2 linked regions of the Homo sapiens genome follow. The protein of the gene in region 2 purifies or fractionates together with the protein of the main gene of each other region. This does not show direct contact. Each region holds a gene or a part of one and is shown on either strand. Other genes may lie near its edges.

Region 1 (3,837 bases), on a different chromosome or scaffold from region 2:
TTATGACTGAGACAGTCAAAGAGATCTAATCTAACCGACTCCATCTTGGTTCTAACCTTTAAGCTGTCATTGTTCGTTCCTGGGTGTAGGCTGAACTAACTTTGGGAGAACTTAGTTTATAGTTTATAGTCTAAAACAAAGACAATAAAAGCCATTTCCCAAACAAACCCCCTTCTTGCCTGGAGACTAGATTGCCTTTGTAGGACTAACAAATTAGCCAAAAGATTAGAAATTATCATTTAGGAGTCATGCAGCTGAAGGCTACAAGATTCTGACCACCACTAAACTGCTCCTAATATCACTGCTTGAGATATTTTGCAGACCCTGCACTTGATGGATCAGCTGGCAACACCCAGATCGATAAATTGGCTCATCTGATCTTGTGGCTCCCACCCAGGAAGTGACTCAGCACAAGAAGACAGCTTTGATTCCCTATGATATCATCTCTGACCTGACCAATCAGCACTCCTGGCTCACTGGCTTCCTCCCACCCACTAAATTGTTCTTAAAAACTCGGATCCGTGAATGCTTGGCGAGACTGATTTGAGTAAAATAAAACTCTGGTCACGTGCACACTCGGCTCTGCGTGAATTACTCTTTCTCTACTGCAATTCCCCTATCTTGATAAATCAGCTCTGTCTAGGCAGTGGGCAAGGTGAACCCTTTGGGCGGTTACAAATATAAGGACACTTCCAGGAACAGTCTGTTACTACACAGGTGTGTATTCCCTCTTTTTTTTTTTGAGACGGAGCCTCGCTTTGCCGCCCAGACTGGAGTGCAGTGGCATGATCTCGGCTCACTGCAACCTCCACCTCCCTGGTTCAAGCAATTCCCCTGCCTCAACCTCCCAAGTAGCTGGGATTACAGGCGCACACCACCACGTCTCGCTAACTTGTTTGTATTTTTAGTAGAGGTGGGGTTTCACCATGTTGGCCAGACTAGTCTCGAACTCCTGACCTCAGGCAATCCGCCTGCTTCAGCCTCCCAAAGTGTTGGGATTACAGGTGAGAGCCACCACGCCCCACCAGGAGTGTATTCTTACACCAATATTCTGCTATACTCTTAGATGAAGAAGGGACAACCCTAGTCAGCTAATAAACTGGCACCCTTCCAAACCTCTACTTAGTATTAGTTGTTTAATCTTTATCTGAAGAAGCTTAGTAGTAATTCACCTCTTTGAGGTTCAACCCCATTCAGAATGGCACAGTAGTTAACTAACATTAACTGAATCCACCCTCCTTAAAATGACAGTTTGATAATCATCTTTTGTTATTCAAAATTATGTGTCTTAGCTCACCTCCCAAAAGGATTAATAAAGTACGGTATTCTTTCCAACCACATTCTAATCTCTTTCTGAGAGGAGTTCTGGTAAGTGCAACTTTCTCCATCTCTTTACATTTATGAGTCTGAAGTTTCCACATGTCTGGGAATTTCGGGACTGGCCCCGCCGCCCCACCACCCCACCATAGTCTGGTTGCTCAGATAGTTAACTGCTCAACTACTTACTCCAAGTTTATCATAAGTCCCTTTGAAAGAAAAAGCTAGGAAATAAAAGACGGGAATTTTATTGCGTATATACCTCAAGCCTCAAAGCAAAGAAGGCTGTAACTGAATTTTAAGACAAAATATAGCTATTTCTTCTTTTTCCAGTTAAAAAGCAATTAATAGGACAAATACAAATATCTATGAATATAGAACTATTTAAGCAATATTTAAAAACTAAAATATCCAAACAATTACAAATAGCCCACTTATTAGCATGTAAGCAGAACTGACCTGTTCATATGAAATCTAGCTACTGCTATTAATAAAACAGTGTAGCATAATAAATGAATTTCAATTACAATGAAAATGTGGTGTTACAGACTATGAAATTTTTGCATATTAAAACAACTTTTTTGGTTGGGCACAGTGACTCACACCTGTAATCCCAATACTTTGGGAGGCTGAGGCAGGTAGATTACTTGAGATTAGGAGTTCGAGACCAGCCTGGCCAACATAGTGAAAGCCCGTCTCTACTGAAAATACAAAAATTAGCCGGGCATGGTGGTGTGTGCCTGTAATCCCAGCTACTCGGGAGGCTGAGGCAGGAGAATCGCTTGAACCCAGGAGATGGAGGTTGCAGTGAGCCGAGATCATGCTACTGCACTCCAGCCTAGGCAATAGAGTGAGACACCATCTCAAACTAACAAGCAAACAAAAAACACTTATTTTCTCCTAAATAACAACAAAGAACCAAAAAAACAAAACAAACCCTTGCATCTTTCTGAAACTATTAGGACCACGGACACTTCTACCTCAGCCCATATCTATCAGCTCACATCCTGGAATCTCTCAAAATCCTCCTCTAGGTTTTCTTGGGGTTTCATTTTTGTTTTTGTTTTTCTTGTGGAGAAGGGTTTTCTCTATGTTGCCCAGGCTGGTCTCAAACTCCTGAACTCAAGCGATCCTCCCACACTGGCCTCCCAAAGTGTTGGGATTAAAGGTGTAAGCCAAGGAGCCTGGCTCTCCTCTAGTTTTTAAATTAACCTTTTGACAAAATGAAGCTTACCTACTGGCTCTCCATCACTTTCTGGATTCTCTTCTTTAGTGAAGACTTCAGCCTGTGGTTCCAGCTGAGGAAGTGGTTTCAGTACATCAACATTCATCGGGCCATTTCGTAATCGTTGTTTCAGTAGAGAAACCTAATATAAATGTGCTTCATTAGAAAAAAGTCAAAAAAAACTATGGGAGTAGTACAATTGTCCCTTGGTATCTGTGGGGGATTGGTTCCAGGATTCCCTGTTAATACCAAAATCCGCAGGAGCTCAAGTCCATTATATAAAATGGTGTAGTATTTGCATATAGCCTACACACATCCTCCAGTATAATTTAAATCATCCCTAGATTACATAAACTACCTAAATAATGAAAATGCTATGCAAGTAGTTGTTGTACTACATATATTTTAGAAAATAATGAGAAGAAAAAAAGTCTACATGTTCACTACACATGGTTTTCACCCCCTAAATATTTCTGATCCAGTTGGTTGAATCCACACATACAAAAACACATCAATGTGGATGGCTTATTGTACTTTATTTAAAACAGAGAGAGGACGGATTAAATGATATTCTTCTTACTAAAGTGGGGGAAAATAATCAAAATAAAAAGTTTACTCCCAATACAGCTGGTTTTTATATTTGCTATTATTATTATGCAGTTAGTCAAAAGATACAATAAATAAAAAAGTATCCTTAACATTAACTGAAGAGCTAGGAGTGGTGGCTCATGCCTATAATCCCAACACTTTGGGAGGCCAAGGCGGAAGGATCGCTTGAGCCCAGGGGTTTGAGACCAGCCTGGGCGACATAGTGAGACCCCATCTCTACAAAAAATTTAAAAATTAGCTGGGCGTGGTGGCATATGCCTGTATTCCCAGCCACTCTGGAGGCAGAGGCTGGAGGATTGCTAGAGCCCAGGAATTTGAGATTGCAGTTAAGCTATGATCACGCCACTGCACTATAGCCAGGGTGAAAGAGCAAGACTCTGTCTCAAAAAAAATTAAAAATAAAAAAAATTGAGGAAAGCAAAAAGTTTTAAAAATAGGTCTTAAAAAAGAAAAAACTTTTGCAACCTTGCAGATATCCAAATCAAACCCCCTCTATTTTTCTTTATCCAAAAAATTCCACACTTTTTCTTTTACTCTTTTACCTGAGTTTGGAGAACACTGATATACTGATCTTTCTCCTCTAAAGATGCATCAAACTCCTCTTGCAGATGTTTCTTTGCCTGCTGGTCCATTTGGAGCTCCTAAAACATAAAATGATTTACAGGTAATTTTCAGTATAAAACAAA
Region 2 (4,175 bases):
ACATTAAAGGTAGGCTTATGACTAGATTTTCAACTTTAGATCTAAATATCAGGAGTAGATTAAGGGAGAACTAAATAAGTTAAAGCCCTAGGGTACAAAAGAGAAAAATTTGGTAGAACAGAAACTATTATAAGGGCAACAGCTCTGAAATATTATTTACTAAACTATTATGTACTACACTTTTCTTCTTTTAAAGATGGGGTCCTGGCCAGGCGCAGTGGCTCACGCCTGTAATCCCAGCACTCTGGGAGGCTGAAGCAGGCAGACACTTGAGGTCAGGAGTTCAAGACCAGCCTGGCCAACATGGTGAAACCCTGTCTCTACAAAAATACAAAAATAAGCAGGGTGTGGTGGCGCACACCTATAATCTTAGCTACTCGGGAGGCTGAGGCAGGAGAATTGCTTGAACCCGGGAGCAGAGGTTGCAGGGAGTCGAGATTGCACCACTGCACTCCAGCCTGGGTGACAGAGTGAGTGAGACTCTGTCTCAAAAAAAAAAAAAAAAAAAAAAAAAAATACTGGGTCTCATCTCGTCACCCAGACTGGAGTGCAGTGGTGCACTCATAGTTCACTGCAGCCTCAAACTCCTGGGCTACAGCAACTGTTTATTATATTTTAAATTCCTTGAAGAGAGAAACTATATTTAATTCATCTCCAATTTGAAGTTACATATTGGCACACTGTTGACCTGAATTATAATTCTCCACAAGTCAAGGAGTGTAGAGTTACCAATTTTTTATATTGCGATTATCACCATATACAAAGACACAGCTTCTTCTAAAAGTTAAAAGAAGAAATTTACCTGGGATAAAAATCAAAGAATTTTAGAGTGTGAAGAACATTAAATATTAATTATATCTTTTGGCAATGAAAATTGAGACTGTAAAAGAACTATTTATTATAGGAAATAGTGACTCAAATGAAAAAATATGACCAACATGAATAACAGAAATACACCGGAAGTTATGATAGATCACAGAACTAGACAAATATTAGCTCTTTGTGCTCAAATTATAAATTAAACTAAATAACACATCTTACACCTACAATATATTACTTTTTTATACTCAGAGCACATTACTGACAAAAACCAACTGTATATAAAATACAAATCACTTAAAAAAAAACATACCCATTATTGTATTTAAAAACGGCCGACTTGCAAAACTATAACATACTCAAATAAATCTATAATTATACTCTAGAAAGCTAATGAAATTTAGAGAAATACAAATTTCTCAAGTATGTTTACAGACTTAAAACCCTAAAGTCAGTCAAAATTGTATCTATTGTATCTATAATATTAACAATCTCTAGAGGTAGAAGTATTAATATTCTTAGAAAGCCATATTAGCAATAAATAACCTTAGCTATAACAATTATGGGCTTAAAGTATTTCCCCATTTTAAACTGATTTTTCACAATCATGAGTATATGAATACTTATCAGTAAGAAAAAAATATAAACAGTACAACCAGAAGCACATTAATTATTCAAATAAACAATCTCATCTTGCCCTTGTGGTTATGTTTCTTTAGTGGTGCTGAAAATAATAACTTTTGGTTCCATTAAGGAACTATGATTTTTTTGCACTATGAATTCTAAAGTATCCTGGAACAAAATTATTAAGTAAAACAAAGCATCAAAGATTACTTTAACAAGTTTATAGAATCAGCAGCTTAAGATAAACATGAAAAAAAACTTACAAATAAGGTAGTAAAATATGTCATCAAATAATATATACAAGTAATTTTTGGCACTGTGTTGGATAGATTCAGGAGCTAGTAAGGAGTTATATTGTTCCAGACTGCTAGTTATGTACTACTCTTATATACTATGCACAGGAAACATGGGAAAGTGTTTATATATCTGTTATTACATATAATTATACCTCTGTTACTGCCTCTGGCTTCAAAGGTCACCTCTTTTCTTCATTTTTCAAGATGGCCTCCATCTTCCACCGTTGCCTGCTATCTATACCCTAACAGTCTCAATACTCTGACTAAACTTAACACTGACAACTACCTAGGGGGAAAAAAACCAGAAAATCATATACTCTTTGTAATACTAAACCAAATATTCTGGTGTCAAAAAAGGAAAAAATATAGATGCATAGTTTTTAATTTGTCTTTTGTGCTTCAGAGCTTTGAGGTTACTTCTGAGATGGAAAGACTTAAGTCGCCTAAAAATAATGGATTGTACAAGTAAAAAAAATTCTAAATCTAATTCCTTTTTATTGTTTTTTTTAATAGAATTCTTTTTTATTAGATAGAAACAGGCTTTAGAAAACTAACAATAGCCCAGGTGCAGTGGCTTATGCTTGTAATCCCAGCACTTTTGAGAGGCCAAGGCAGGTGGATTGCTTGTGTCCAGGAGTTTGAGACCAGCCTGGGCTACATGGCAAAGCCCCATCTCTACAAAAAAAATACAAAAATTGGCCAGGTGTGGTGGTTTGCATCTGTAGTCCCAGCTACTTGGGAGGCTGACGTGGGAGGAGCATTTGAGCTTGGGGGGTCAAGGCTGCAGTGGAGCACCCACTGCACTCCAGACTGGGTGACAGAGAGACCTGTCTCAAAAACAAAACAAAACAAAACAGAAAAGTAACAATAAAACAAGTTATAAGAATTAGACCCCAGTCTTTTTTTTATTGTCATTACTTAGGGAGTTAAAGTAGAGAAATAATAGATACAAGCAACACTGGTCATTGAAATGTCACATATACCTTGCTCTCATAAATGAAAAAAATGACATTCTAATTTATGATATCTTTTCCTTTTTTAGTTTATTTTTATTTTTTTGAGACAGGGTTTTCCTGTAGCCCAGGCTGAGGTGCAGTGATGCGACCACAGCTCACAGCAGCCTAGACCTCCCCGGCTCAAGCGACCCTCTCACCTCAGCCTCCTGAGTACCTGGGACCGCAAGTGTGCGCCACCATGCTGGGCTAATTTTTTGTATTTTTGGTAGAAACAGGGTTTCACTATGTTGCCCAGGCTGGTCTCGAACTCCTGGCCTCACAGAATCTGCCCACCTTGGCCTCCCAAAGTGTTGGGCTTACAGGTTCGTGAGCCACCACACCTGGCATCAGTTTCTTTTGAACATAATTATGATCCATATTGCCAAAGCCAAATAAACTTTGGTAAACCAATAAAAACAAGCTTCAAAACTGAGGACAAGATGCTTGATGGTGATAAGATATCTCATCCAAGAGATTCTTGGCAAAAATAAGAAGTAAAAGGAAGTCATAGATAAGTGAGAAGTAATAATGAACAAGAAAGAGCACTAAATGTTTAATAATGGCAAAGGGGACAGAGGCAAATTATAAGATTTAAGAAATTCTACAAAGTTCTTAAATGCAAAGCCCATGAAAAGTGGTTTCTAATTCTACTGTCAAAACAGTAACCAAAACATTACTCTAATATCAGCTGAGTGTAGTCTCCCAAAACCTTCCTACTTCCTTCTTATGCATTTCCTATTATTTCTATGCATTCAAAGACAACTCTTTCAAACAGAGGATACATTTTTGTTTCCTGGTCATAAGTATATCACTGCATTTCTTGTTTTTTTTTTTTTTTTTGAGATGGAGTTTCGCTCTTGTCACCCAGGCTGGAGTGCAATGGCGCGATCTCGGCTCACTGCAACCTCTGCCTCCCGGGTTCAACCGATTCTCCTGTCTCAGCCTCCTGAGTAGCTGGGATTATAGGCACTCGCCACCATGCCTGGCTAATTTTTTGTATTTTTAGTAGAGATGAGGTTTCACCATGTTGGGCAGGCTAGTCTCAAACTCCTGACCTCAGGTGATCCGCCCACCTCAGCCTGCCAAAGTGCTGGGTGGGATTACAGGCTTAAGCCACCACGCCCCGCCGATCACTGCATTTCCAAGAGTAGTGGTGGCCTAAGAAAGCCTATTTGGGCATGATAAACTGGAAATCACTTAATATATATTCCAGTAACCTTCTTTCTTAGGGTCCTATTCATACTAATAATAGGTACCATTATGAAACATCCTCAATATTTTGAGAATTATACTACACATTTCATCTTGATCAAAAAGTATTCTTAAGATAAAGTCAAAAACTCAGAGAAGATAAGTAACCTACGAAAGTTTTCCATAACTGGTAGGATAAGATAGAGGCAACTCAAGCCCAGTTGGTACAACTCTAAAGCCTGTATGTTAT

What was found. The genes of interacting proteins can lie anywhere in the genome.
Region 1: the proteins of LIN54 (region 2) and GOLGA4 purify together in Homo sapiens (co-immunoprecipitation; one large-scale study listed by IntAct). This does not show direct contact.

The regions. Positions count from the first base shown.
Region 1 is NC_000003.12:37,294,934-37,298,770, reverse strand, and holds part of GOLGA4 (golgin subfamily A member 4), read right to left. Parts: intron 3,793-3,837; coding exon 3,694-3,792; intron 2,685-3,693; coding exon 2,552-2,684; intron 1-2,551. UniProt on the Homo sapiens protein: Involved in vesicular trafficking at the Golgi apparatus level. May play a role in delivery of transport vesicles containing GPI-linked proteins from the trans-Golgi network through its interaction with MACF1. Involved in endosome-to-Golgi trafficking.
Region 2 is NC_000004.12:82,979,451-82,983,625, forward strand, and holds part of LIN54 (protein lin-54 homolog), read right to left. Parts: intron 1-4,175. UniProt on the Homo sapiens protein: Component of the DREAM complex, a multiprotein complex that can both act as a transcription activator or repressor depending on the context. In G0 phase, the complex binds to more than 800 promoters and is required for repression of E2F target genes.